Linked DNA regions of Homo sapiens: region 1 is linked to region 2. The links come from fine-mapping of genetic effects on gene expression. A gene starts in region 2. The other region holds a variant in brackets. All regions are shown on one strand. Distances are between the middles of the regions.

Evidence for each region. PIP is the estimated chance that this variant, and not a neighbour inherited with it, causes the effect.
Region 1: its variant is fine-mapped to the expression of RASGEF1C in monocytes (TOPMed, PIP above 0.99).

The regions. Positions count from the first base shown.
Region 1 is chr5:180,169,476-180,184,269 of GRCh38, forward strand. The region is part of intron 1 of RASGEF1C (RasGEF domain family member 1C); the gene reads right to left. Among named protein-coding and RNA genes, the nearest start is that of RASGEF1C, 32 kb to the right of the region's middle. The variant C/G (reference allele first, on the strand shown) is at 8,012.
Region 2 is chr5:180,201,792-180,216,585 of GRCh38, forward strand. RASGEF1C (RasGEF domain family member 1C) reads right to left here and starts at 7,420. Exons shown (of 14, transcript NM_175062.4): 1 at 7,237-7,420. RefSeq lists an enhancer at 5,419-6,211 and a silencer at 7,336-7,555.

The DNA.
Region 1 (14,794 bases), 32 kb before region 2:
AGGCAGCCACTAGAGGAAGTGAGTGAAGTGAAGGAAAGGTCCTCTGAGCAACAGGGCCCAAGGGGAAGGTCTGGAGAGGGCTGCTGGTCAGCTGGGAGAGGGGGCTGGGGGACGTGAGCAGTGGGGGCAGGGGGGCGGGCTCCTCACTGAGCCTCAGTTTTCCCTATGCACAACAAGGATCATGAGCATGGAGAGGCTGTGAGCCTGTGTACCCAGCACAGCGTGGGGACTTGGTCTGCACCCTCATTGGCTACGTCACACAACCTGCCCTGGCCCTTCTCGTAGCCCCATGCGCACCCCCCAGCACCCACCCCCCGACCCCATGGGGCTCCAAGCCCGCCTCTCTGGCCCAGCCTCAGTTCTCCCCTCGCCCTCCCCCTGTGCAGGCTGCCTTCCCGCCCTGGGGCTGCGTGTTTGCTGTCCTCCCCCTGGGCTCCCTGCTCCAGGCCTCCGCAGGGCTTCTGCCTGCCCCTCCCTCGGAGACCTTCCGTGACCACTGCTCCACACGGCACTGGCTGCCCAGCCGCTCTCCACCCTGGACCCCGTTTCATTTTCCTCGTGGCTTTTCTCCAAATCCAAATCCATGTGTCTCCCCAGGGACTGGGAGCTCCACTGGGGCACCACCTTGCCTGTTCCTGCTCGCGGCTGCACCCCAGCACTAGAGCAGGTTTCAGCAAAAGCCTCCTGGCCGAGTGGATGAGTGAGTGAGTGAATGATGGCCCCCGGGATGCGGGAGGGGACCAAGCCGGGCAGCAGGGGAGGGGCCGAGAGCTCAGGAGGCCCTGGCCAGGGCTGAGGCTGACAGAGGTGACCCGGCTGCTCCCATAGGGCCGCCAGCCAGGAGGCAGCTGCAAGGAGGGGCGCGGGCCTGTTCTGTGAGGGAGAAAACAAGCGTCCTATTTACCACGAGAATGAATATCGGGCTCTGTGTGAAAATCCCACTTGCTCTGAGATGTGTGAAGCCAGCAGGGCCAGGGACGCAAGTTGTAGCGTCTCATTCAACTCCCCACGCCCCAGCCGAGGGGTACTGTCCTTCCAGCCCCCGCGCTACGCAGCTGCTGCCTGGTCCTCGCCTGTCCCCGCGGAGCCCCCGCCCTGGCCAGGCTCACTGCCCTCCTGAGACCTGCCAAAGTCACCATCTGGTTTCCTCTTTCATCGAACCTTCCGGAGGTCCCTGTGGCAGTCACGAGCCACACCTGGCCCCCCAGCGGTGCTCTCCCTTTACCCCAGTCCTGCATGGGGCCACCAGACCTCTCCCTCCCGGGCCTGCCTGCCTGGCCACCTGCCTCGGAGCCCCGACAGCCAAACAGGCTTCACAGGTGCATTGTGGCATACCCCGGTCCTGCTCCGCTTGTCTTCAGGGCCAAAGTCGGAACTTGGTGGCAGGTGTGGGTCTGCCTGCAGGCAGGGCTCCCTGCCCCTGCCCCTGTCCCCTGTCCCCACCTTGCCCTGGGGGCCTTTCCCTGCCTGGAGAGTGGGGAGGAGGGGCTGTCAGCGCTGCTGCTCCAAACTGGAGGCCCTGAATCCCAGAGAGCATGCAGATGGCCCAGGTCAGAAGACGCGGCCGGAGTTCCAGGACTCAGGGACCACAGTGTGAGACGCGTGCAGCCAGGCACCCCCATCCAGGCATCCTGTGGCCTTCCCCCAGCCCAGGAGTGGGACCCCCGAGGGCTTCACATCTTCAGGGGGAAGGAGCCAGGGGAGCACAGGGAGGAAAACCATTCTCAGGAGCTTAGGGTCTGAGGCTTCTGAGCTGCAGGAGCCCGGGACTTTCTGCTTGGGAGGATCTGGAAGAAGTGTGACCTGTTTCTGGGGAAGGGAGGGCAGGTCCTAAACTGCTGACCCCAGAGGCCACAGCAGCAGCCTCGTGTTCAGACCTGAAGACTGGTGGAAAAAGGACATTAACAAGCACCTCCTCCTACAGCCCGGGGAATCCAACCCGCCCATGAGAAGATGGGAGACCCCGCAGTGACAAGCACCCCAGCACCCTCAGAGCCCACCTCCGAGGCCGAGGGACGTGCTGAAATAACTGTCACACGTGTGGATTGTCTGTTCCAGGGCAGGCCTCCACAGCACTCACACTCAGCCCCTGGGTCCCAGGCTCTGTCCCCACGCAGGTCAGCGTGAGCTGCCTGAGCACCTGCACACTGCAGTGGGCACCCTGCAGGGATGCCAGAGTCTAGGGCAAAAATAGCCAGTTCTGTCTCCAAGTGATGGCGTGTGTCACCCACACCTCCTGACAAACACCCTTCGGCACTCTGGAGAACAGCGAATGCGTAGCAAAAATAAATGCTTTGTTTTCTCCCTGCGGCTTCTGGGAGTCAATTCAAAGAGTGGTCTTGGGAGGTAAGGCTGTGAGGGCCAGGACCTGCTCGGCAGCCAGGGTGTGGGCCCACTGGGGTCTCCTCCGCTGCCTGGCTGTGGGGCGGGCCCCTCAGCTGTCGGACCTCAGCTTCCACATCTGTAAAGTGGGCTCACGAGACCCATGCTATAGGTGGGCCTACTGGGTTAGGGGTGGGGTCAGTGGGTGCACTAAAGGCCGACACCCGCAAGGAATCTGCACTTCTACCCTTACATTCATAGGAATAAAAATAGTGTTTAAAAAGTCTCAATAGCTATAAATAGATCTGTGTGTTCTGCCCTGCCCATCTACCCTGTCCGATTCACCTAAAGGTAGGCCAGGCAGGACGGGCAGGGCCACCTTCCCTGTGATGAGAGCACAGTGGGCAACAGCAGCCACTGGGTGTCCCAAGCCTGCCTGAGCACTCAGGGCCCCAGCATGCCCAGATGGCTGGTGGTCCCTCCCACCTGCTCCCCCAGCCCTTAGATGCCACCTCCAGGAAGGCTCCCATGCCTCCTCCTAGGCAGGAACGGCCACCTGGCCTGGGATGCCCAGCTCTCTACTGCTGCGTGTGTTCCCCTGGCCTCTCTCCTGCATGTGACCAGGGCCCAGGGGTCATGAGGCAGCCAAGGAAATGAGGGCTGAGGGGCAGAGGGACAGGGGGCACAGCAGCCTGACACGGAATCTGTGGCACACTCCACTCCAGATGCTGCCTGCCCGCCACTTCTCTCAGACCCTCCCACAAAGCCTAGCCCCGGGTGTCTGCCAGGGCCTTCCAGCCCCAGCTGGCAAAGAGCCAGGTCTGTACTGTCCTTTCTCCAGAATCTCTGCCTGAGGCTCCACCCCAGAGCTTCGGGCTCCCAGCCCTTCTCTCACGCCCAGCTCCCCAAGAGGGGAGGCCAGGCCACCTCTGCCACCTGCTCCCCACCTCCCTGGGCTCCTCTGTGCTCCTCATCTCTGTGCCCCCTGCCTCCTGTACTCCCTGCCACCCTGCGCTTCTCACCTCCCTTGTCCTCTGCCTCCCTGTGCTCCTCACCTCCCTGTGCCTCTCCCTGTGCTCCCGCCTCCATGCCTTTGCCCATGCTCTATCCTCTTCTGGGTTGCCCTTTCCTGCCAGTCTGCCAGCTGAGGCCCTGAGGGTCAATGCATCTTCCTTTCCTCTGCCCCAACCTGACCCTGGCAGCTGAGCACAGCCCTTGGGGCCCTTCTGTCCCCTGGCAGGACCTGCGGCACCCTGCCTGGCTCTCCTGCCTGCTCCAGTTAAGTCACCTGCAGTTGACAAGCCGCCTGGGTGTCCTGCATGGGTTGCATAATGCCCTTTTAGACTGCGAATTTACTGGCCTTATTTACACACTGGGGCCTTTCAGGAGAATCAGTGCGTCTGCTTTCCTGCAAAAACTCAGAAGAGCCAGCTACACAGGGCCTGCATTCCTGCCTGGTACTGTTTGTTGGCCAGAACCAAGGGCTGCCCCTCGACCTGGGGATGCCACCACCTCACTGTCTCCGTCACCTGCTCCCTCTGCCCCACCTAAGCCTGCCACCCGGTTTCCAGACCAAAGCCTCTGTGGCTGCCCAGGGTGTAGGCCATGAAGGGGACCCTGAGGTGGGGAAGGCAGATCCCACACTGACTACAGCTGTCTAAGCAGAAGCAGCTATGTGGACGTCACTCCCTGGGGCCATTTCCTTCTAGCTGGAGATGTATCTGTCAAGGTCTGGAAAATCTTAAATGACAGAGAAATAAGAATTGAAAGAGAAAAGAATTTCATTTCTCCCCTAAATTTCAAATTTGGGGGAATGAGTTAAAACTGGTGCAGTTGGCCGGGCACGGTGGCTCCCGCCTGTAGTCCCAGCACTTTGGGAGGCCAAGGTGGGCAGATCACAAGGTCAGGAGTTTGAGACCAGCCTGGCCAACATGGTGAAACCCCGTCTCTACTAAAAATACAGAAATTAGCTGGGCGTGGTGGTGGGCGCCTGTAATCCCAGCTGCTAGGGAGGCTGAGGCAGGAGAATCGCTTGAGCCCGGGAGGCGGAGTTTGCAGTGAGCTGAGATTGTGCCACTGCACTCCAGCCTGGGCAACAGAGCGAGACTGTCTCAAAACAACCACCAAAAAAAAAAAAAAACCTGCGCAATTTTTCATTCATTGTGATCCATGACATGGAGGCTCAGGGGTTGGGGGGCCCAGACGTGGGGATGGTCTCAGAAAGTTGGGGAAGTGTGGTCCTCCTCGCTGCTGCTCTCGGGGGCTCCTTCCGCCTGGAGACGGTGGGCACCAGAGAAACACTCAGTGCATGGAGCCTGGGCCGTGGTGTGGGCTTGATGAATGCTGAGTGACTTCGGGCAGACTGTTTATCTGAAAATAACTCCAAAAAGCAAGGAGCCATTTAAATACTTCTCATTCTTGCTATAAGAAGAGGCTCTCACAGCTAAACTTTAACAAATTCGTCATCGTCTTTTCTGGGAAGAACGAGGGAAGATGAAGTCATCAGTTTATGATAAAACAAAGAAACATACTGTTTTCTCTGGCTTCCCTCAGAAACTTCAAGCAGGCAGAGAAAAGGCCCTTGTCAGAGATGCATGTGTGTGCGTCTGTGTGTGCGTGCGTGCATGTGCACACGTGTGTGTCTGTGCATGTGCGTGTGTGCATGTCTGTGTGTATGTGTGTCTGTGTGTGCGCGTGTGTGTCTGTGTGTGCGTGCGCGTACACACGTGTGTCTCTGTGTGTGCGTGTGTGCGTGTGTCTGTGTGTGCACGTGTGTCTGTGTGTGCGCACGTGTGTGTGTGTGTGCACGCATGTGTGTGTCTGTGTGTGTGTGTGTGTGTGCGTGCATGTGTGTGTGGGGTGCATCTGAACCCCCAGCCCAGTGGCTCCACATGGAATCCTGGGTGCAGGCCCCTCTCTGGGCTGTGGTCCACAGCCAGCACTCAGACAGCATGCGCACAGATCGCACACACGATCGTGACCGGTTCCTGCTTGACTTCACTGCGCAGCAGTTCTCTGATCTGCTTTTCCCAGAAAGGGAAACCGAGGCTCAGAGAGAGGGGCCGACCTGTGCTATGTATGTCACTCAGCTAGAACATGAGGTCACGAGACTGTCCCACCCCTCTTGCAGACTTGAACTGATAGTGGGTTTTATCATCTTCTGAGAGTGGGTTTAGGGTTGCCAGGCACAGGGACTCTGCTTCAGACTTGAGAGGGTCTCCACACAGAGGGACCCTGGCAGCTCAGGTGGGGAAAGGCCCCAGCGGCCAGCACCTGCTGCCCAGGGCTCCACACCAGGGACCCAGCCGCCATCCTGGAAGACACTCCAGACCAGGAGCAGATGGTGTGAGAACCCAAGTCCTGTGTAAGAGGTCACTTGGCTATGGGCAACTTTGCAGAAGCCAGCCTGGCCTAGCCTCTGGGGTTGGAGCCCCCCCAGCGCCGGGGAAAGGCGTTTCTGTGCAGGGCAGGCACTGGACACCTGTGCCCACCCTCAGCATGCTCAGAGGCCCCCAGACGCCAGAGGAGCTTCTGGAAAATGCAGATGCCCAGGCCTCGCCCCAGCTCCTGAGCAGCCCTGCTGCTCTCCAGACTCATCCTGGCCAGCTCCTTCAAGCAGAGAAGGAGTCTCAGATTTGGGGCTTCTTGGGCACACCTGCCATGTGCAGCCCCCTGAGTCCTGCTAAGAGCCCGGCCTTGGGCTCAGGACCCTCAGGCCATGAACCTGCATTTCGGTGCTTGTTGAAGGAGCCACTCCAGGGCCACACTCGGGACATTTCCCGAGCCTGAGCAGTCCCTGTGTTGTTCACATGCTCATGTCCCCCGCATCAATCCACAGTTTAAAACGACCACTTCTCCCCGCCAAGAATATCTATGAGCTCTAATGCAATAGTGACATGCCTTTAAAAATGTATTCAAAGGGCCGGGCGCGGTGGCTCACGCCTGTGATCCCAGCACTCTGGGAGGCTGAGGCAGCAGATCACGAGGTCAGGAGATTGAGACCATCCTGGCTAACCCCGTCTCTAGTAAAAATATAAAAAATTAGCCGGGCGCAGTGGCGGGCGCCTGTAGTCCCAGCTACTCGGGAGGCTGAGGCAGGAGAATGGCGTGAACCCGGAAGGCAGAGCTTGAAGTGAGCGGAGATCACGCCACTGCACTCCAGCCTGGGCGACAGAGCGGGACTCCGTCTCGAAGAAAAAAGAAAGGTATTCAAAGAAACACATAATAATGGCTAGAGACAGTGACAATGCTGCATTACTGTGTTCAGTCATCAGCCCAACCCAAAGAGGCCACATCGCTGGCCACAAGGAGACAAGGACACGTGGATGTTGGATAGGGTGGACTTCAGGACCTCCTGGTTTGGGGTCTCTTAGACAAAAGTCCCTTGGCCTGGGCCCTGGTGGCCATGCCTCCCAGAGAGCAGGTGGGCCCTGGAGGCAGGGGCCCCAGCCCCAGGCCTCCCCACTCCTGCAGGCTTCTGGCAGGCAGAGCAGCCGTGGGAGGGCACTTGACCCAGCCACGCTGAGTGCCTGTTTTAATCTTGCGAAGACTCAGCCTCACCTGAGCCCATCAATCCAGTCACCACAATAACGACTTCTGGCCAAGTCTCTGCTGCTCTGGGCTCTGCATGAGGCAGGCCCCGCGCCATCCATCGCACCCTCCTGCCCCTGCCAGGACCAGGCAGAGGGGAAAGGCTGCCTGTGCGGGCCCAGCTGTGCCACTCAGGTAACAGAGGGCCTTGGCTTTCCAAGGCTAATACTTTTTTTTTTTTTTTTTTGAGATGGAGTCTTGCTCTGTCGCCCAGGCTGGAGTGCAGTGGCGCAATCTCGGCTCACTGCAAGCTCCGCCTCCCGGGTTCACGCCATTCTCCTGTGTCAGCCTCCCGAGTAGCTGGGACTATAGGCGTCTGCCACCATGCCCGGCTAATTTTTTGTATTTTTAGTAGAGATGGGGTTTCACCATGTTGGCCAGGATGGTCTCGATCTCCTGACTTCATGATCCGCCCGCCTCGGCCTCCCAAAGTGCTGGGATTACAGGCGTGAGCCACCGCGCCTGGTCCCGGGGCTAATACTTTTTTCCAGAAAGATTCAGCCACAGCAGAAGCTATGAAAGCATGACTGCTGCGTGGTGCCAGCCGTCAGGGTTGGGCAGTGGTCAGTCCTGCCCATGTCTCCCCCTGGCATAACCCAAGACAGGGCCCCTGGCCTGGCCTCCAACTCCCACCCAACCTTGGTCAACCTCCCAGAGGAGAGGGCTGCAGACGAGGGGTTTCCAAGGGACGGCAACTTTTGCCAGCATGGAGGAGGACCAGGGTGAGAGGTGAGACTCTCAGAGCCTGACGGAGGGGCTGGATGAGGGGCAGTGGGATGGGGGGCTGGCTGGGCTACTTCCAGAAACGTCCAGCCGAGTAGAGGATGCATTCAAACCATGTGCACATCAGCCCCTCAGCCCCGAAGCCAGGGGCTGCTTTCCCTTTCCGGCCCCACCTCCCCACCCAGTGAAGGGGCTGGCCTGCCCGGCTCACCCAGCAGCTTCCCCAAAGACACAGGCTGTTCATCGGCTCCATTTTTAACCTTCCTTAGTCCCAGCAGCCCCAGCAAAAGCTCTTCGGTGAGTGCCTGCGCAATCTGCCCGGCTGGGCCGCAGCAGTCCACGGGCAGGGCAGAGCCCCGGGCTTCCTTCCGGGACC[C/G]CTGCCAAGGCTCAGCCCTGCTGCAGCTGTCCAAGGCCATGGCCTCTGCGGCTTCTGCCTGGCCAGCATCTGTTCTTCCCTCTGAAAACAGAGCCCATTTGTCCTTCCTCTCCTGCCCGTGGTAGGAGGACATGGCCCTGGTGCCACTTGGGGAAGGAGTTGCGTTGGTCTGTGACAGTTGGGATGGCATGTGATCCAGGCCCAGCCACTCAGTGCCTTTCATCTCCCTGGCCTCTGGGATAAATCCATGGGCAGGCATGTCACCTGGGTGGGCCACCAGACTCAGTTCGTGGGACATTTATTTGAACTGTCTGAGCAGAGCCTCTCTCTCTGCTCAGGGCAAGGTAAGGACAGGAAGTAAGTATGGAGCTGGTGGGGGCTTTCTTGTGAAAGGGGCCCACATGGAGGAAACGGAGCCAAGACTCACAGAGACCGAGACCATGTCCCACATCCAGCCATGCCTGAAGCCCACCTTGGGCTTTTTTTTTTTTTCTTTTTGAGGTGGAGTCTCGCTCTGTTGCCCAGGCTGGAGTGCAGTGGCATGATCTCGGCTCACCGCAACTTTCGCCTCCCAGGTTCAAGTGATTCTCCTGCCTCAGCCTCCTGAGTAGCTGGGACTACAGGCGTGCACCACCAAGCCTGGCTAATTTTTTTTTTTTTTTTGTATTTTTAGTAGAGACAGGGTTTCACTGTGTTAGCCAGGATGGTCTCTATCTGGCCTCGTGATCTGCTTGCCTCAGCCTCCCAAAGTGCTGGGATTACACGTGTGAGCCACTGCACCCGGCTGGCTTTTTTTTTTTTTTTTTTTTTTTGAGACGAGTCTCACTCTGCCACCTAGGCTGGAGTACAGTGGCGTGATCTCAGCTCACTGCAGCCTTTGCCTCCTGGATTCAAGCAATTCTCCTGCCTCAGTCTCCCAAGTAACTGGGACTACAGGCATGTACTACCACTCCAGGCTAATTGTTGTATTTTTAGTAGAGACGGGGTTTCACCATGTTGGCCAGGCTGGTCTCGAACTCCTGACTTCAAGTGATCTGCCCGCCTCAGCCCCCCAAAGTGCTGGGATTACAGGTGTGAGCCACCGTGACTGGCTATCCCAGGGCTTTTTATTTACAGAAGCAAATGCGTTTTCTGAGTCCTTAAGTCTGAGGTGGGTTTCTCCACTTGAAATAGAAAGAACCTAACACCCCAGCTCTGAAGTGCACCATCACCAGCTGCTGCTGGCTTTCATCACCGGCTTTCCACGCAGCAGACCACGGCGCAGATGTGGGCGGGGTCCTTATTGGCCATGAGACCCCGGGGCGTCACTTTCCTCAGACAGCCTTATATGTAAAATGGGCCTAATGCACCCCCGGCTGATATGTGGAGGGGACAGCTGGTCTAAAATTCAACAGCAGAAGGGACTGGAGAATGTTCTTGGGGGGGGAGGGGCGCAGGTGCCAAGGAGCGGAGTGGGGAGGAAGCCAAGGACAGCAAGGTCTGAGGGCTGAAGCAGGATGAGGGAGGCCCCCGGCCATGGGGCCTGGGGCCGGGAGGAGGCGGGTTTATGACCATGGGATAGTCCTGCAGCGTCTCTGCCTGCTGAGTGAAGAACGGGCTGGGGCTGGAGGGAGAGTCGTGGGTCTGGATCGAGCTGGAATCAGGGGCATGCAGCCCAGTGCCTGCATTCTGCGCAGATTGGGAGGGTGGCGTGCATGGGCCGTGTTGATGTTTGGATGCAGGAGGGGGACTGCTGACATAAAGGGAGCACTCAGCCCCCGGGGTTTGTGCGTTACCCACCTGGGTGACTTGTCTGAGATGAGGGAGGCTGCAGGGAGAAGGGAGTAGAGGGTGGTGGGAGGTAAGAGCAGCAGGAAGCCCAGGGACAGGAGGGGGCTTGGAAGCCCAGAGGGCAGCATTTCAGGAGAGAAGGGCCGATGGATGGGCCAGTGGTGCACAGGGAGTGGAGCAGCCCAGGGAACCCATGGTGTGCTGAGCAGACCAACCCAGGACAGGGGCGTGAAGGCAGAAGCCAGCCTGCACCAGCCTGCACCGACACCTTTGACCTCAGACCCAGCAATTACCCTAAGGAGCTAACCCAGCAAGAAAGCAGTGATCAATACAGCAGCTGCCAGGGTGAGGAGGCTCCCACGCTGCCGAGAGGCTGGGAAGGAGACGCGTCCTGCCACTGGGCGTCAGGTATGCAAACTGTGGTCTCTCCATTCAAGGAATACTGAAAGGAACCCTGAGGAAGAAGCTCTGAGCTACTGAAGGAGAGAAGCCAAACAATGCACACTATGCTTCGGATGAATGGATCTTTGCAAAACAAAAACGTACATCTCCGTGTACCCAGAGATAAGTCGTGTACATTAAATGATAGCAGACTCATGATGTGGAACTGGGGGAGTAAGAGGTGTCAGTTTCCTCCTTTACCCTCTCTACATTCCTGGCTTTGCGTCCGTCAACGAGTTTTTATTACTTTTACCAACAGAAAGAAAAGCACAAAGGAAAGGAAGGACCGGGCGAGTGGGCAGAGAGAAGGTGGAGTGCAGTGATGGAGCTGCCAGCTAGGCGGGGGCAGGCCAGGGCCACCCCAAGCCCTGGGAGGCGGTGGCCTGCTCACACTGCCTGTAGCACATCCACCAGCAGCTCTGGGGGGAAAGCCAGCAGCCAATTACACAAAAAGGCAGCGGGCACAGCTGCCTCTCTCTCCAGCCACTCTCAGTCTGTGGAGGTAATAACAAGTAGAAGCATTTAGGGCATGCTTGAGTTCGACAAAGAGCAGGTCTGATTGACTCCAAGTCAGCTGTGCACATGCAGGCTGGTGGAAAGGGTGGCCTGGCCGCTGCTGTCAGATTTATGACAGCCACAAAGCTGCCTCTTTCCTAAAGCCAGTGCCACCACTGCTGCTGTTTGAGACGAGCTCCACGACCCAAAGCAGTCAGAAGACAAACTGGCCGGTGCACCATGCTTTGGTTTGCAGTCAGACTGACATGTGCACAGTACTTAACAATTTGCAGTCTGACATGTGTGTACCTCACTTCACAGTTTGCAGAGTCCTTTCAGAGATGTCATTGCTCCTGAGTCCCAGGTCCCTGCCCAGAGGTGCCAGGAGCAAAGCCGCTGCCCCAGACTGGCCATCGGTGGGAGCACCCCAGGACCTGGCTCCTGCCCAAGGAACGGCCAAACCCATTGCCACAAGCAGGGGCCCTGGTGCCTCCAGCTTCTCTTTTCAGCCAGCATGGCTGTGGTTGTGTTGTTTACCTTTTTACTGGAGTATAACCTACATCCTGGAAAGCACACAAGCTTGAAGCGTGCAGCTAGATGAGATCTCCGAAGTGAACCAGGCCACCAGCACCCAGATTGAGAAGCAGAACATTTCCAGACCCTGAAAAGTCCACCTGTGCCCCTCTTCACCCACTAACCCTTTAATTTCAATTGCAAAGAAACACCAAGAGGGATCGCCGCATACAGCACTATCAATCAATGTTCACACAAAACTAGAAATGGGAGGGATCACCACGCAGGGCACTATCAATCACTGTTCACACGAAACTCGAAATGCGTCACGCCCAGGTGGGTACCTGTCCTAAATGCAGGAGCAAGAGGACGAACAGGAACCCCACGTGGCTGCGGACTACTAGCCTGGGGCTCTGCCCCTCCCATCACTGGCAGTCAGGCAGTGCCTCCCCAGGATGTGCCAGTCCTGCTGGGCTGCAATCCCACCGGGATCAGGGACAAAGGAAATGGCAGCTACCAGGTAAACATAAAAGACTTAAAAAATGCCTTTAAAACATACTTGAGTGTTTAAAGCAAAAATAATACTGTAGTGTGGGGTTTATAAATATGTGGAAAAGAGATGTATGACAACACTAGCATTGTCGTCGGTTGGACTGAGTCCCTCCTAAACAGATGACTGAAGTCCTCACCTCCAATATCTCCAAAACGAGGCCTTATTTGGAAATAGGGTCACTGCAAATGTAATGAGTGAAGAGGAGGCCACACTGGAGTGGAGTGGAGTGGGGTGGGGTGGACTCCTAATCCAACATGACTAATGACCTTAGAAGACGTGGGCACACAGGAAGAGCACCATGTGACACTGAGGGCAGAGACTGGAGTGATGCGGCTTCAAGCCAAGGAATGCAGAAGATTTCTAACAAGCCGCCAGAAGCTGGGAACAGGCAGGGAAGGGTTCTATTGGGTTCAGAGGGAATGTGTCCCATGAGCCCCTGATCCAGAACTCCAAATGAGAGAACACATTTCCGTTGTTTTAAGCCATCCCAGTCTGTGACACTTTGTTAAGGCAGCCCTAGGAAAGTGATACAAACACAAGGCTGAGTGGAGCATGAACGCCACTGGCAGGATGTCTTCATGCTATATATGCAGCAGCACACTATTGAGACCACAGTTTCTTCGGTTGGTTTGTGGTCTCGCTGACTTCAAGAATGAAGCCATGGGCCGGGCGCAGTGGCTCACGCCTGTAATCCTAGCACTTTGGGAGGCCGAGACGGGCGGATCACGAGGTCAGGAGATCGAGACCATCCTGGCTAACACGGTGAAACCCCGTCTCTACTAAAAATACAAAAAAAATTAGCCGGGCATGGTGGCGGGCGCCTGTAGTCCCAGCTACACGGGAGGCTGAGGCAGGAGAATGGCGGGAACCCGGGAGGTGGAGCTTGCAGTGAGTCGAGATCGCGCCACTGAACTCCAGCCTGGGCAACAGAGCAAGACTCCGTCTCAAAAAAAAAAAAAAAAAAAAAAAAAAAGAATGAAGCCATGGACCTTCACAGTGAGTGTTACACAGCTCTTAAAGGTGGTGTGTCTGGAGTTTCTTCCTTCCGGTGGGTTTGTGGTCTCGCTGACTTCAAGAATGAAGCCGCGGACCTTCACGGTGAGTGTTACAGCTCTTAAAGGTGGCGCGGACCCAAACAGTGAGCAGCCGCAAGATTTATTGTGAAGACCAAAAGAACTCAGCTTCCACAGCTGGAAGAGAACCCCAGCAGGTTGCCGCTGTTGGCTGGGATGGCCAGCTTTTATTCCCTTATTTGTCCCTGCCCATGTCCTGCTGATTGGTCCATTTTACAGAGTGCTGATTGGTCCATTTTATAGTGTTGATTGGTGCATTTTTACAGAGTGCTGATTGGTGCTTTTACAATCCCTTAGCTAGACACAGAGCACTGATTGGTGCATTTTTACAGAGTGCTGATTGGTGCTTTTACAATCCTTTAGCTAGACACAGAGCACTGATTGATGCGTTTTTACAGAGTGCTGATTGGTGCTTTTACAATCCTTTAGCTAGACACAGAAAAGTTCTCCAAGTCCCCACTGGACCCAGGAAGTCCAGCTGGCTTCACCTCTCACTATCACCTGGAGGGAGACTGGGATCAAGCTGTGGTGGTCAGAAGAGTTCTAAGATGGCCCTGGATTCCTACTCCCTGGTGTACACACCCCATACAATCCCCTCTCCTCTTAGGTATAGGCAGGACTGTGAATATGATGGATGTCACTCCTGTGATTAGGTGATGTTATCTGGCAAAGATGAAGGGAGTTTTGCAAGTTTAAGTAAAGCCTGTAATCAGTTGACTTTGAGATCATCAAAAGGGAAATTATGCTGCATGAGTGTAACCTAAACAGATAAGCTTTTTTAAAAAAAGGTCAGATACTTGCATCAGAGACTCTCCTGATGGTCTTGAAGAAGCAAGCCACCATGCAGTCTACAGTGGCAAGGAAATAAATTCTGCCACCAGCCACATGAGCTTGGAAGAAGACACTAAAACACAGATGAGACCCAAGCCCCACACTTGTGAGACCCTGAACCCCTGACTCATGAAAATTCTAAAATAATAAATTTGTGTTTTACATTACCAAGATCGGTTTAATGTTTTGGGTAGCAACAGAAAAGTAATGCAATGAATGATACCTAAATTAAGCACTAAAATAACACAGCAAAGGGATATAGCTTAAAAAATCAACAAAGGACATAAGCTAGAATCATAAAAAAAAACCCAATTAATTCAAAAGAAGTCAGAAAAAAAAAAAGATACAAGGAAAAACATATGAAACAATTAAAAAATAAAGGCTAGGCATGGTGGCTTACACCTGTAATCCCAGCACTTTGGAAGGCTGAGGCAGGTGGATCACCTGAGGTCGGGAGTACAAGACCAGCCTGACCAACATGGAGAAATTCCGTCTCTACTAAAAATACAAAATTAGCCGGGTGTGGTGATGCATGCCTGTAATTCAACTACTTGGGAGGCTAAGGCAGGAGAATCGCTTGAACCAGGAGGCAGAGGTTGCAGTGAGCCAAGATGGCACCACTGCACTCCAGCCTGGGAAACAAGAGCAAAACTCCATCTCAATAAATAAATAAATAAATAAATAAATAGATTTCAGAATAGATTTCAGATCAAATAAATAAACAGCCGGCCGGGTGTGATGGCTCATGCCTATAATCCCAGCACTTTGGGAGCCCGAGGCTGGCAGATCTCTTGAGGTCAGGGGTTTGAGACCAGCCTGGTCAACATAGTAAAACTCCATCTTTACTAAAAATACAAAAATTAGCCGGGTGTGGTGACGCATGCCCAGCTACTCAGGAGGCTGAGGCACAAGAATCACTTGAACCTGGGAGATGAAGGTTGCAGTGAGCAGAGATTGCACCACTGCACTCCAGCCTGGGCAACAGAGCGAGACTCCATCTTGAAATAAATAAATAAAAATAAATAAATAAATAAATAAATAAATAGAAGGTGGTTAATTTAAATCCAACAATATCTTAATCACATTAAATGTAAATGTTCTAAACAA
Region 2 (14,794 bases):
TAGAAAAGAGGATCCAGAGAGCTCCCTTGTCCCTTCCTCCATGTGAGGGCGTGAGGAGAGGAGCCATCTGCGAACCAGGATGCGGCCCTCACCAAATACCTTGATCTTGTACCTCCAGCCTCCAGAACTGTGAGAAATCGTTCTGTTGTTTGTAAACTAACCCAGTTTCTGATACAGATGAACAGATGAAGACACACTAAAAATTCAGACACATGAAGAAAATCCCTACATTATACATTCAAAAACTCAACAGAAATGGACCCAAAAAAAGGTAAATGTGAAATTAGAGTTGCCTGAACTCATGAAAAAAAATGAGGAAAAGACCATCATCTCAGAAATGAAGACTGAATTAGAAAATCTCTTAGGGAGAACAGATTTGACTAAAAGCTTAATAGTGTTCATTAAGGAAATTAATGAAAACAACCATAAAACAAAAATAAAATTCATAGAGAAAGCAATCTAGAATACAGATGAAAAACAGATCTAACACAAACATATTATTGGCATCTCTGAAGAAAAAAGGTAAAATAATGGTACATAATATTTAACACTATAATCTAAGAAAATGTTTTAGAAATAAAAGAAGACTTAAATATGCATATTCAAAGAGTCCCCCACGTACCTAAGATCATTTCCAAGAGAATGCCTAGTAAAATGATTAAACTTTAAAAATAAAGAAAAAAAATTCTTTGGAGCTCCAGAAAAACAATCAAGTCACTTACAAAGGAAAGAAAGGCATGTTTATATCAGACATCTTGTCAACAATGTACAAGCAATACAACCCATAACAACATTTTTAAAAATTTAGGGACAGAAAGTAAGAGGCAAGGATTTTATAACCTGCCAATCTATCCTTCAAGTAGCAAGAGTATAGAAAGCAAGCAAGCAGGAAATAACAGTACTCACAAGTCTTTCTTTTTTTTTTTTTTTTGAGACGGAGTCTCGCTGTCGCCCAGGCTGGAGTGCAGTGGCACAATCTCGGCTCACTGCAAGCTCCGCCTCCCGGGTTCACGCCATTCTCCTGCCTCAGCCTCCCGACTAGCTGGGATTACAGGTGCCCGCCACCACGCCGGGCTAATTTTTTGTATTTTTAGTAGAGACGGGGTTTCACCGTGTTAGCCAGGATGGTCTCGATCTCCTGACCTCGTGATGCACCCGCCTCGGCCTCCCAAAGTGCTGGGATGACAGGTGTGAGCCACCGCGCCTGGCCAGTACTCACAAGTCTTTCTTAAGGAACCAACAGAAGCTAAGCTTTGTCCAGTCAAAGGGTGACTGGGAAAACTTTGGCAAAAATAAATATTAGTAATCAGAATCCAACATCCAACAGGCAGTTTCTATGGTGCTCACCGGCATGAGCTCTACCTCTTGGTGTTCATACATTTGGGACTGGGTGGGGCTTTTGACTTTCCTCTGACCAACAGACTATGGCAAAGATGATAGGATATCACTACTGGGATTATGTTACGTTGTTATATCATGTATGTCACGTTATACTATGTTATGTTTTGTTATGTTATGACTCTCTAGGGACTCTTTGCTGGCTTGATAGAGTAAGCAGTCATGCTGGGGAAGCCCATGTGACAAAGACCTGTGGGTAGTCCCGAGGAACTGGGGGTGACCCTAACAAGTTGAGGTTGGCCTCCAGCCAACATCCAGCCAAAATTTTAAGCTCTAAATATAACTACAAAGAACTAAATACTGCCAACAACCACATGAGTGGAGAAGCAAATCCTTCCCTAGCTGAGTCTCTACATGAGAACCTAGTGCTGGCCACCAGCAGTACTCAGCTAAGCCATGCCCAGGCTCTTGATTCACAGAAATGATGAGCTAATAAGCCATGCGTTGCTTTAAGCCACTAGGTCAATGATAACTTAGTACACAGCAATAGATAACTAATACAATGATATTGAAACATACTACAGGCTGGGCGCGGTGGCTCACGCCTGTAATCCCAGCACTTTGGGAAGCCAAGGTGGGAGGATCACTTGAGGCCAGGAGTTCGAGACCAGCCTGGCCAACATGATGAAACCCCATCTCTACCAAAAATATAACTTAACCGGGCATGGTGGTGCACGCCTGTAATCCCAGCCACTTGGGAGGCTGAGGCAGGAGAGTCGCTTGAACCTGGGAGGCAGAGGTTGGAGTGAGCCGAGATCATGCCACTGCACTCTAGCCTGGGCGACAGAGTGAGACTCTGTCTCAAAAAACAAACAAACAAACAACAACAACAACAACAACAAAGTGAAATCTGGGGGAAGACAAAAGTTATACATAGCTTTTTGACTGTGTGGGGGTCAGCATCCCTAACCTTCTCATTGTTCAAGGGCCAACTGTAATTGCTAAACTATATTCCATCGTACGGATATATATCTTGTTTATTTATTCACCAGTTGATGAACAACTGCGTTGTCTCTACTTTTCTGGCCATTATAAGCAATGCTGTTATGAGCATTTGTGTACAAGTCTTTGTGTGGACATTTCATTGTTTTCATTTCTCTTAGATTCCTGGGAGTGGGACTGTTGGGTCATATGGTATTTTTATGTTTAAATTTTAAAGAAACTGCCAAACTATTTTCTACATCATGTCCAAGTGGGACTTATTTCAGAAATGCAAAGATGGCCTAGTGTTAATATTCATACGTTTTGTGTCTGTTTACCTCAGCCTAGTCCCAGACCTGATATTGGGAAATCCATCACATGACTCATTATGCTACTAGTAATCAGGAGAAATATCAGATCATTATCTACATACATGGCTCTAACAAAGGTCAACACCAATCCTGATTTTTAAAACTGCCAATAAAATAGGAGTCAATGGATATTCCTCTATCTATCTATCTATCTATCTATCTATCTATCTATCTATCTCATCTATCTATCTCTTCCCATCCTAAAGTCAGCATCTTTCTTAATAGGGGAAGTATTAGAGGCCTTTTTACTAAGGTCAGGAACAAGGTAAGGAGGCCCACCACATCCAATATTTAATACTGAATTGGAGGTATTCAGCCAATTTAATTAGATAAAAGAAAGCATAAAAATCAGTAGAGAAGCAGTAAAGCTATTTGAATTTGTAGATGACAGAATGACTAACAGAATCAAAGATATGACTAACAACAGGCCGGTAATGGTGGCTCATGCCTGTAATCCCAGCACTTTGGGAGGCTGAGATGGCAGATCATCTGAAGTCAGGAGTTCGAGATCAGCCTGGCCAAGATGGCAAAACCCCGTCTCTACTAAAAATACAAAAATTAGCCTGACGTGGTGGCAGGCACCTGTAATCTTAGCTACCTGGGAAGCTAAGGCACGAGAATCACTTGAACCTGGAAGGTGGAGGTTGTGGTGAGCAGAGATCACGCTACTGCATTCCAGCCTGGGTGACAGAGCGAGACTCCGTCTCAAAATAAATAAATAAATAAATAAAAACAAAAAAAAAGACTAACAATAAAACTAACAATAAAAATTCAGGTAAGACAGAAAGATATAAAATAACATACACGAAACAGTAGCCAATTCAAAGATATAATTGAAGAAAAAACCATTTATAGTAGCAACACACAAGATAAAAATACTCATGAATAAACTTCATAAGAAATAGGAAAAACATATATGAGGAAAATTTCAAAACACTCCTAGAAGTAGTCTTGACAAACAGAAAGACATCTCTCAGTTTTGGATAAGATAACTCAACTTCATAAAGATGCCAATTATCCTAAAGTTAATATACAAGCCTAATATAAACTTAATACGCTCTCCTTCCCCGCCCGAACAGCAGCAACGTGCTGCAACAGCCAGGAAATCCTTGCAGTAAAAAGCGATGGAAGGAACTTGCCCACCACATGTTAAAACACAACAAGGAGAGTTGAGCCCAATCTCTCTCCTCTATTGCAATGGTCTTGAATAAAGTCCTCTTTGCCATTATTATAATATTATTATTATTATTATTATTATTATTTTGAGACAGAGTCTCACTCTGTTGCCCAGGCTGGAGTGCAGGGGTACAATCTCAGCTCAGCTCACTGCAAAATCTGCCTCCCAGGTTCAGGCGATTCTCATGCCTCAGCCTCCCAAGTAGCTGGGATTACAGGCATGTGCCACCATTCCCGGGTAATTTTTTATATATTTTGGTAGAGACAAGGTTTCACCATGTTGGCCAGGCTGGTTTCAAACTCCTGACCTCAAGTGATCTGCCTGCCTCAGCCTTCCCAAGTGCTGGGATTACAGGCGTGAGCCACTGTGCCAGGCCCTCCTTGCCTTTAAATATATTTTTTCTCTCTCTCTCTCTTTCACCAGTATGTGAACAGATGGAACAGACAGACCTGTGAGACACACTAGAAAGCCCAGAAACAGGCCCAGGGCTTGGATTTTTAGTGTATGAGAAAGGTGCATTTCAGATCACTGGAGGAAAGATGACCTTTTAAATAAATGGCTTTGGGACAGAGTGCCAGACACTTAGAAAAAGATTAAATTGGATGCAGAGACTAAGTACACAACTAAACAAATATTAGAAAACACAGATGATTGCTTTATAATTGGGCTTTTCATAGTTAGAAAAGTCTAAGTATGATTCCAAATCTATGTGAAAAGATGTCCAATTTCATTTATAATAATAGAAATATAAATTTAAAATACACTGAAATACTGTTTCTCAGCTCTCAAACCAGCGAGGCTGTGGGGAAACAGAAGACACTGTGATACATCGGTGGTGGGAATGCAAAACGGTGCTACCTCTTGACAAGGAATTTGGGACTAGCTAACAAAATAAATCCACATTCACTCCTACTTCTAGAAGTGTGTTCTAAATATACACCTTTGCAAACATTAACAATATAGGTGCAAAGTTATCCATTACTCCATTATTTTAAATTTAAAAAGACTTGGAAAAAAACAAAATTGTTCATCCAGAGGACATAATTTGAATAAACAATAATAGTACAGCCACAGAACGAAATACTATGTGAGTGTAAAAAAGAATGAGCCAGGTCTCCATGAACTGGTAAGAAGTTACTTTCAGGACATACTTCTAACTGAAGAAAAACCAGGAGCTGTACGGCTAACTTTTGTGATAATGCTTAAATGACTTGTTTTGCAGAAAGAGACACAGGAAGGATAAACCAGAAAATATTTTAAATGGCTCCCAATGGTGTGGGAACAAGGAAGAAGATGCAGGGGTGGGACTGAGACCTTTAAGGATAGCTTTTTAATAGTTCTGACCTTTAAACCATGTGTTTTACGTATTCAAAAAATAAAATTACATCCTAAAGTCTAAAGGAAAAAAAGCTCCAAATTGAATGCAAGTAGAAACACACGAAGCTAACAGTGTGTCCGACTGATAACGTCACCACACAGCACTCTGCCTGCACACCCGTGGAAATCCCGATGCTGACCTAGCAGGTTTTGGTTGGCTTCGGTGTGGATGCAGTCATTCTGAAACTCTTTCGGGGTGCATTGTGGAGCTAAGTAAATGATGAAATATATTCATGTTTGGGGGAATAAGGTTCTCACTGCAGGAGAAAGGGAAAGGAAATATTAATTTTTAGTAAAAAAGGGGCCTTGGCTTGGTCCACTGACAAGGCCTAGAGGCGGCGAGTGCACGCCCCACACTAAGCCCGGGTCCCACGCAAGGAACCAAGGCCCCTTGGACAAATGGCTGACTCTGGATCTGGGTCCAGGTACAAGTGAGAGCTGGAACCACCTCAGAGACTGGCGGGGACATGGCAGGAGGGTGCAGACCCCGGCCTGAAAAGGGCCAGGTCCCGGGCAGGGCCCCACCTCTACCTGGTGGCCTGCGGGCTCCCCCTCGCCAGTCCCGCCCTGGGCTCCGCAGCCCGTCCCTCTCTCGCCTGCCCTCCCTCTCCTGCCCCGGCAGTGCGCCCACCCGCCGCCACGGGCAGCCTTTCGACGCCCAACCTGCAAACCGCCTGGGGGCTGCCCAGGACGTCCAGACCCTGTAGCGTCTCAGCTCCAGCTCCGCCCCCTCCTGCCCTCAGGGATCTCACCCGCGCTGTTCCCCCGGGCTACCCGTCCATCACAGGCTGGGCTCCCCGCTCAGGACAGCCTCCCTGACCAGACGAAGGCTCCGCCGCGCCCTGGTCTCCCTCTGCCCCAGTCACCCTACTGCATGTTCTTCCCAGCACGCATAAGATCTTGGCCATGTCCTTGCTTTTGCCTTTGATTTCTTGTTTGGTGTCCCCTCCCACACCAGCTAGTGAGCACTTACGGGGGCAGGCAGCAGGCGGCACACAGTAGGCGCTCAATGAATGTGGCCAGTGAGTGGACAACCCTAGCCCCCCTCCACCGGTCGCCTGCACAGTGGCTGCACTATGGCTGTTGGAGCCAGTCTTACCAGAGGTGGGACCCCAGCGTTGCCACTCCATGGTCCCGCCCCTCTCTAAACCTCAGTTACTCCACCTGCCTGGCAGGCAGAGCTTCCCAGGACTCTTCTCAGGCTCCCGGGGCTCAGAACTTCTGTCTCTCCCACAGCCCCAGGAGGCAGGAGATACGGGCCCGGAAGAGCTCCACCAGCACCCCAACTTCCCAGCTCTGTCTTTCCCACAGTTTCCCACGCCCACGCTGAGCATGGGGCGGCGTCGCCAGCACCCTTCCCCAAGTCCCCCCAAGCATCGCTTTCCCAATCTAAATACAATGAGTGGACCAGGTGGTCCCTTGATGCCGTCCGCTGTCACTGCGTGAGGGACACACCCAGGACTCCCAGCAGACCCCACTGTTCTCGCAGGCCCTCTGATAGTGGCGCTGGTCCTTTCCTCAAATCCGATCCCATCCTCAAGGGTGACAGCACCCTCTTCCCCCAGGCGCAAGGCCCTTTCCCTTCTGCACGTGCACCGGCAGGTCTGCTTTCCCGTCCCCATTTCATAGACGGGGAAACTGAGGTCCGGTGCGGGTGGAGGCTTTGGTCTAGGCTGGCTCTTCCTGCCACTCTAGCGGCTGAAAGAAGCTTGCTCCTCGCGCCCAGCAGGGGCTGGCGGCGCGCGGCAGAGCTGGGTCTCCCGCCAGGTGGCCGGGGGTGTGCCCTCAGGGTACCCTACCCGCTACCCCCGCGCCTCCAGTCCCGGCGGCCGCGCGGACCCCGCCCCTGCTGACCCCGGCGCACGCTCCCGCGCCGCGCGCAGCCTCCCGCCTCCCGCCGACCCCGCCGCGCCGCCGGCAGCCCTCCCCAGCCCCCGCGAGCCCGCGCCCTTGCCCGCACCGCCAGGTGTCCCTCGGCCGCGCACCACTCACCGGCTCCCGGCGCGCCGGAACTCCGGGCCCGGCCCATGGGCAGCTCCCGGTGCGAGCCTCGGCGCCGCGGACCGGGGCGCCGCCCGCCGCCGCCGCCGCCGCCGCCGCCGCCGCCGCCGCCGCCCGACCGCCCGGCTCCCAGCGCAGCCCGCACGAGCGCCTGGCGGCGGCCCCGGAGCAACGCGGCGCTGCGCCCCCTCGTGGCACTCAGGCAGCGCGGAGCGGGCGGGGCGCGGGGGTGGAGCTGCGGGAGCCCGCGGGCGGCGCTGCACACCAGGGCCCTCCGTGCCCCGGCCGCGGAGCCAAGCGTCCCGCCCTGCGTTCAGGCCTCCGCGGCGGCTGGCCCCCCGCGCCAGGACCACCCGCTCGGGCCGTCAGACGCTGCCCTCCCGCGCGCGGACCCTGGCGGACTCTGCGCCCCAGCTGCCCCAGCCTACACCTCACCTGGTGGGCCTCTGGCGCCCCAAAACCCAGTTCACCCTCTCTCCTCAAGACTGGGCCCGGCCCGGTTCTCTGGACTGGCCACCTAGGTTGTCTGTGTCCCCCAATGGGACATCCCTGGGTGGACACCCCCCCTCCCCAACCTTCTCGGCGCTCTCCCGTGGCCCCCAGGGAGGGTGGACACCACTTTGAAGACACCGGGGTTCTGGGAGGATGGCGATGCATGATTTCACTTTTAGAAAGGGAGAGGGGCTCTAACAGGATCCAGTGGCCTCCTTGAACTGGGTCTTCAGTGAAAAGTTCCCTGGTTGGTCCCAGCATAGAGGTCAGGACACCTGTCCTCCTGTGTCCGCAGTTTGTCCCTTCCGCTGGGTTCCTGGTCTGGCTGACTTCAAGAATGAGCCAGGGACCTTGGCAGTGAGTGTTACAGCTCTTAAAGGTGGTGCGACGGTGAAACCCTGTCTGTACTAAAAATACAAAAAAATTAGCCAGGTTTGGTGGTGGGCGCTTGTGGTCCCAGCTATTCGGGAGGCTGAGGCAGGAGAAGGGCGTGAACCCGGGGAGGTGGAGCTTGCAGTGAGCAGAGATTGCACCACTGCACTGTAGCCTGGGCGACAGAGCAAGACTCCATCTCAAAAAAAAAAAAAAAGAAAAGAAAAGAAAAAGGTGGTGCAGACCCAAAGAGTGCGTAGCAGCAAAATGTCTTGTGAAGAGCAAGAGAACAAAGCTTCCACAGCAGGGAAAAAGACCACAGCCGGTCGCCGCTGTTGCTGGCTGGCGAGGGGTGGGCGGGCAGCTTTTATTCCCTTATTTGTCCCCACCCATGTCCTGCTGATTGGTCCGTTTCACGGAGTGCTGATTGGTGCGTTTTTACAGAGTGCTGATTGGTGCATTTACAATCCTCTAGCTAGCCAGAAAAGTTCTCCAAGTCCCCACCCGACACGGAAGTTCCAGCTGCCTTCACCTCACTCTGCTTTAGTCAGGACCTGCCTGATGAGATGTGGCCCAAAACTCAACCCAACCAGCTTGAGCAAAAAGCTGGTTTGTGGATCATAAAAAGCCAAGGTTTACTGCTTAGAGGAATGGCTAGATCCAGGTACTTAACCTATGTGCATAGAAACTGGCCTCCCCTATCTCCCAGTCTTTCTGTGGCAGAATGGCCCTGGGTTGACACCTCAGAGAGGGCACAGCTGCCTGATAGTTGCAAGGACAGCCTGCGGCTGCCACACACAGGCTCCGAGGAGCTGAGCTCAGGCCATTTCCAAAGACCTAGGGAGCAGGAATAGCAGGCCTGGGTGTCGTCTCACTAGAGCTGAGGCAGAGTTAGTCCTGTGTCAGCTTTGAGGATGGAGTAAGGTGCTGTTCCAAGCTTCCGTGAAGGCTGTTCCTGGAAGAATGGACAGGTTAAGAACAACAGTCCAGCCCATTTCTTGAACAGTTAGGGAAACTGAGTCCTGGAGAGAGCAGGCAGCTGCCTAGGGCATACAGATGTATTAGAATGAATGTGGGCCAGGTAGCTAGGCAGGGAGACAGCAGGGCTGGGGCCAGGGCCAGGGCCAGAGGCTGGCCCTAGGGAGGGTGACATCTGAGACCAAGGGTCAGGTGTGGGGAAAGGGAGGAGGAACAGAGGCAGGCACTTGGTCAGGGGTGAGCAGTGTGCTCCCAGCAGATAGACAGATGCGCCTCAGGGTGCAGGCACTGGGCCCTCCCTGCATCTTCTCCGATTATCACCCTATGCCCCTAAGCCTCAGGTCCAGTCCCAGGGTGTCGCCTGGAGGAAGCCAGGAGTCTAGGAGGAGAGGCCGCAAGAGGCACCTCAGAAGAGCTGACCCACTCAGCTGTGTTGTTCTGGGGTCTGGGCAGCACTGAGCGGCCCTCCTAACCAAGTGCAGGTCAGGGTGGTGAGGCCAGTCTTTCCCCAGCTCACCCTTGCTCTGTGAGCAAAGGCTGCTGTCCCCTGATAAAGAACTTTCTCCAGCAAGTGGCTGGGGCCACTGAAGCATGATTGCCCTGCTGGGAGCAGGGTAGGGGATGCTTGGATGAGGCCAGGGCAACTGGAACATGGGTGTGGACTAGCTCATGGCCACAGCTCCGTGTCCCACAGGGGTGAGGGTGGCAGAGCTTTGCTCTGGGACAAAGGAGAAGACCGTGTCCCCTGAGGTCTCCTGCGTCCTCTCCCTGCCAGACCCATCGCTGCCGAGAGTTGGGCCTGTGCTGAGGAAGACGCATGAGCTGCAGTCGCGGCTCATGCAACACCAGGAAGGTTTTTGAGCCTCGCGGCCAGCGTGGAGTTCTGCCCTGAGCCTCCAGCTTTGTGGGACCCTGGCTGCAGGTGCCACCACTGGGCCCTGGGAGGTATCTGCTCCCGCCCCCTCATAGCCCACCCAGGAGTGCCCTCTAGCAAGGAACCTCTCCTGCCCAGCCCCTACCCTGCCCACCCAACTTCTCACTCCAGAACGTGCCCCGGGGCTAATCCCTGAGTGAGGGCATTGGGACAGAGGGTGAGCCATCCCTAGGGCCGTCAACTCAGTCTCCCCTCACCCCACCACTGCCCTGAGACATCTATTGGGTGGACACTTACCTAGGGCCTATGTGTGCCGGGCACCATGCTGGGTGCTGGGAATATAGCAGAGAGCCCGACATGGGGTTCCTGCCCCCTGGAACTCATGGTTTAGAGAAGGGAGGCTGAAAACTAACCATACAAACAAAAGAGTAAAAACAATCATTTCGGAGAGCGCCGAGCGCCATGAAGGAAGCCATACTGGGGAGGTGGTTGAGTGCGGTGGGGCTGCTTTAGAAGGGAGGGCCCAGGAAGGGCCTCTCCAGGCACATCAGACAAGGCACTGGCCATACAGGGTCTGGGAAAAGCACCGTGGGCAGAGAGAATAGCAAGGGCGAGGCCCTGTGGCTGGCATGGACTTTGCATTGTTTTTGCAAAAAAGAGGCTGGAGCCAAGGTGGAAGGGAACAGGGCCAGGCAGGGTGTCCAGGTGGGCAAGGAGCTGGATCCTGTCCTCTGGGTGTCGACACAGGGGCAGGTGTGGCTGCAGCTCTGCCAGCAGCACCCCCAGCAGGAGGGGGTGGTGCTGTCCCCAGATGTAGGGGTCCTGACACCCATGAGGCCTTTCCCAGCACCTTCAGCCCCTGCGTAGCTGCCCCTGGCCTGGATGGCACATCCTGCACACGTGTGACTCTGGGAGACCTGAGTGTGCCCCACCAACGCAGCACTGGGTTAGTGGGGCTGGAGTCCTTGTTCACTGGGTGTGGCCACGAGGGACAGGCAGCAGGCCCACGAGGAGTTGGCAGGCAGGGGAGAGCTGATGAGTACAGACCTGGGCAGGGGGCAGGGAATGGGGCAGACCTGAGGGCTGTTTCTGGGGGAGAAGCCACAGGACTGGATGATGGGAGATAGGAGAATGTGTGAGAAGTGACAGCGATGGCAGGGGTCCTGGCAGGATGAATGGGGTACCTTTCCCAGGAGGGCGAGGAGCCCCTTCACAGCAGACAGCACCTGCTGGGACTGTGGGGCCAGGGGCATGTGGAGGAGGTCTGGAGGCAGCGGGGCCTGCGGGTGCCTGCCTGGTGCGGGTCCTCAGGGAGGAAGGAAGGACAGCACGGGCTCCAGCAGCTGCAGGCGCTTACGCAGAGCAGGAGCCTGTGAGGCCCTGCAGTACGTCTGCCCGGGATGCTTGGCACAGCCACAGCACGTGACTCAGGGAAGGGGCACCGGGCAAGGCTGCTGAGCAAGTTCACCAATAAAATCAGGAAACACTGAGGACAGAACTTTGGGCTCTGGCCAAAGCATTTTATTAGCCGACCCGTAACTCGTCCATTCTTGGTCTGGTGAAAACCCTCCAAAGTTACTGCAAGGGCAGAGCTCCAGGAGAAGTCATCCTATAGTCAGCCACGGGAGGGGGCCACATTTAATGATCCTTTACAGTCCAGGGCTGCCAACCCACTGAGCCTGGGCTGGGAGGAGCAAGAGAGAGGGTGTGTGTGTGTATATGGATTTGCACATGTGTGCATGCATGGTATATGCAGTATGTGTATGTGCACTTGTGTGAATGTGTGGTGTGTTCTATGCATGTGTATGCAGCACATGTGTGTAATGTGTGTGTGTTGTATGCTTGTGTATGTAGCGCTGTTTTGTGCACGTGTGTGTATATATGTGATGCTGTGTGCATGAGTGTGTGGTATATGCATGTGTGTGTTGTCTGCTATGCACATGTGTGTGTGCTGTGTGCATGTTGGTGCTGCGTGCATGTATGTATGTTGTGTGCATGTGCGTGGTGTATGTATGTGTTGTGTGCATGTGTGCTCTGCCTATGTGTGTGGTGCCATGTGCATTCTTGTGCTCTATGCATGTGTGTGGTGCTGTGCATGTGTGTGCTGTGTGCATGTGGGTGTGCTGTATGTGTGGTACTGTGTGCCTATGTGCTGTGTGCATGTGTGTGGTGTATGCATGTGTGTGGTGTATGTTTTATGCTGTGTGCCTGTGTGCTGTGTGCATGTGTGTGGTGTATGTTTTATGCTGTGTGCATGCATGTGCTGTGTGCATGTGTGTGTTGTGTGCATGTGTGTGTAGCGTATGCATGTGGTGTGCTGTGCATGTGTGTGCTATATGCATGTGTGTGCTGTATTCATGTGTGGGCGGTTTGTGCATGTGTGTGTGTGCTGTGTGCATATATGTGGTGCTGTGTGCATATGGTGTGCTGTGTGCATGTGTGTGTTGTATGCACGTGTCGTATGCACGTGTGTGGAGGGTAAGTGTGGGTCTGATCCCAATCTGGACTGGCCCAAAGATGAAGGAAAGCATCACAGATGGGATCCCCTGGGAGCAGAGGTAGAGATGTGGGTGCAGGTTGTTTATGTGGGGGGGGGATCCCAGGTGACCAGCCTGGTGGAGCCCCTTTGGGGAACTGCAGGAAGCATCTCGGAATTTCTCCTGCTGGGCAGAGGATTTCCCCCACGTCTCCTATGCTTTCAGGTTGCTGCTGCATGAAGGCTGAGGAGAGTTCCGGGGCTTAAGAAACATTCCAGAGGCAGAAATGCAGGAGCTGGAGGTGGTCACTGCAAGGTTCCAGCATAGAGCCATTGCTCACTGTGCTGAGCGCAGGTGGAGAGCTCGTGGTGCAGGTGCAAACCTTGCCAGCTGCAGTGCACCCCTCGGAACACTCAAGATTCCCCCAGGTCCCGCATTAAGTCCACGAGGTCACCTCCCTCCCCTACCACCCTGCTAGGGTCCCTTCACCCATAGGCAGTAGGTGGCTTATCCAGGGGTGACCTGCAGTGTTGGAGCACTGGTAACCAGGCTCTCCTTGGGCCATGCCCATCTATGTTTATAATAGGGCATGGAAATGAGAGGGGCCTGTGGCTCTTCTGAGTCCTTGACATCATCCCCTCACCCAGTCATGCCTCACCAGGAGGAGGCAGGCTGGGCACCCCTGCTGGCAGGGACTCCTGGCCCCACCTGCTGAATCACTGGCATGAGCAGTCCCAAGTGGCCTGGAGCATGGGTTTAGGTTTGGGGAGTCCTCCTGGGTCCTGGGGAAAGCGTCCAGCAGAGTGAAATCTGCAGGCACGGGAAGCACCTCCCGAGGGTCTTCAACCCCAAAGCTTGGGGGAACTTGTGACTCGATGGGGCCGTCAGGTTGTAGCTGAGGGCTGGGGATGTAACCCTCCTCTTCCCTACAGAGTACCCCAGGGCACCTGTCACACTCGAGGTTTCATCTCTCCCGGGCTATCAAATGTCAGCATGTGTGGAATCACCTGGAATGCCTAGGAAAAGCCAGCAACCCACGGCTCGGGTGTGGGGTTGGGGTCTGGGCGGCCCTGCTCTCGGTATCTGGAACAAGTGGCCCAGGTGAAGCTGATGCAAGCCGAAGATGGGCAAACTCCAGAAATGCTGGTGTAGAGGGATCCAGGCTTACCATCCCCATCTGTGGTAGGCAGAATAACGACCTCTGAAGAAGACCACTTCTTAATCCCCAGAACCTGTGGATATGTTGCCTTGGGTGCCCGAAGGGACCTGGCAGGTGGAATTAGATGAATCTTGAGATGGTGAGATGATCCTGGATTATCCCGGTGAGCCCAGCGTAATCACAGGGGTCCTTACACGTGGAAGAGGGAGGCAGAAGGCAATCAGGCAGGCGGCGATGGGAGCGGGGTCTGGGAGATGCTGCCCTTCCGGCTTTGGAGGAAGGGGCCATGAGCAGAGGAATGTGGGTGGCTGCAAAATGCCAAGAAACAGATTCTCCCCAAGGGCCTCCAGAAGGAACCAGCCCTGCTAACACCTTGCTTTCAGCCCACTAAGACCCACGCTGGACTTCTGACCCACAGAACTGTGCTGCTTTGAGCCACTACGTTGGTGGTAATTTGCGACAGCAGCAATAGGAAAGGAAGACACCATCCCACAAGAGAGGCTGGGAAAATCGGGTGACTCGCGCAGGCGATGCCCAAGCCTCCCACATCTCTCACTGGCTGCCCCGTGTGGGTGGGAGCCTATGGGACTGGGCTTGGGCTATTCCCCTCCCCAGAGCCAACAGCCTGGCTGGGCAGAGTGGTCGTGAAGCAGTGCTGGCCTCCCCCAGGAGCTGGCTTAAGGCGCATGTCCCCTAGGCCCCTGCCCAGACTTCTGACTCAGAGGGCTCGGGCAGGGCTGGGGAATCCGAGTCTGTTAGCAGGTGCTCCAGTGGTCCTGAGCCCAGCCAAGTTAGGGAGCCATTGCCTCAACTGTTTCCTTCCCGTACATTATGGCTGGGCCTGTCGCTTTTCCCAGAGGGCCCGCAGACAACCGGAACGTGCCACGGGCTGTCGGGGAGCCAGGGTGCCCATGTCCTTGTGGGAAGTTGCCAGGGGTGCCCGTGTTTGCTCATTCAGCACATGTGAATCAGGCACCTTGGCGAACAGGCTGGACACCTGGGCACACGTGTGGCAAAGTTTTTAGGTTCACAGGACAGAAAACCTCCAAGCAAGAGTGAGCGGCTGCCGTGAACGTCGGCAGGAGGTGCTGCAGGGAGCTGTGGCGAACGTGGTGAGGGTTTCTGGTGGGCCACATGTGCGCCGTGTGCGAAGCACTGGCGGGGGCCGGGGAGGAGACCCTGCAGGACTGCAGAATC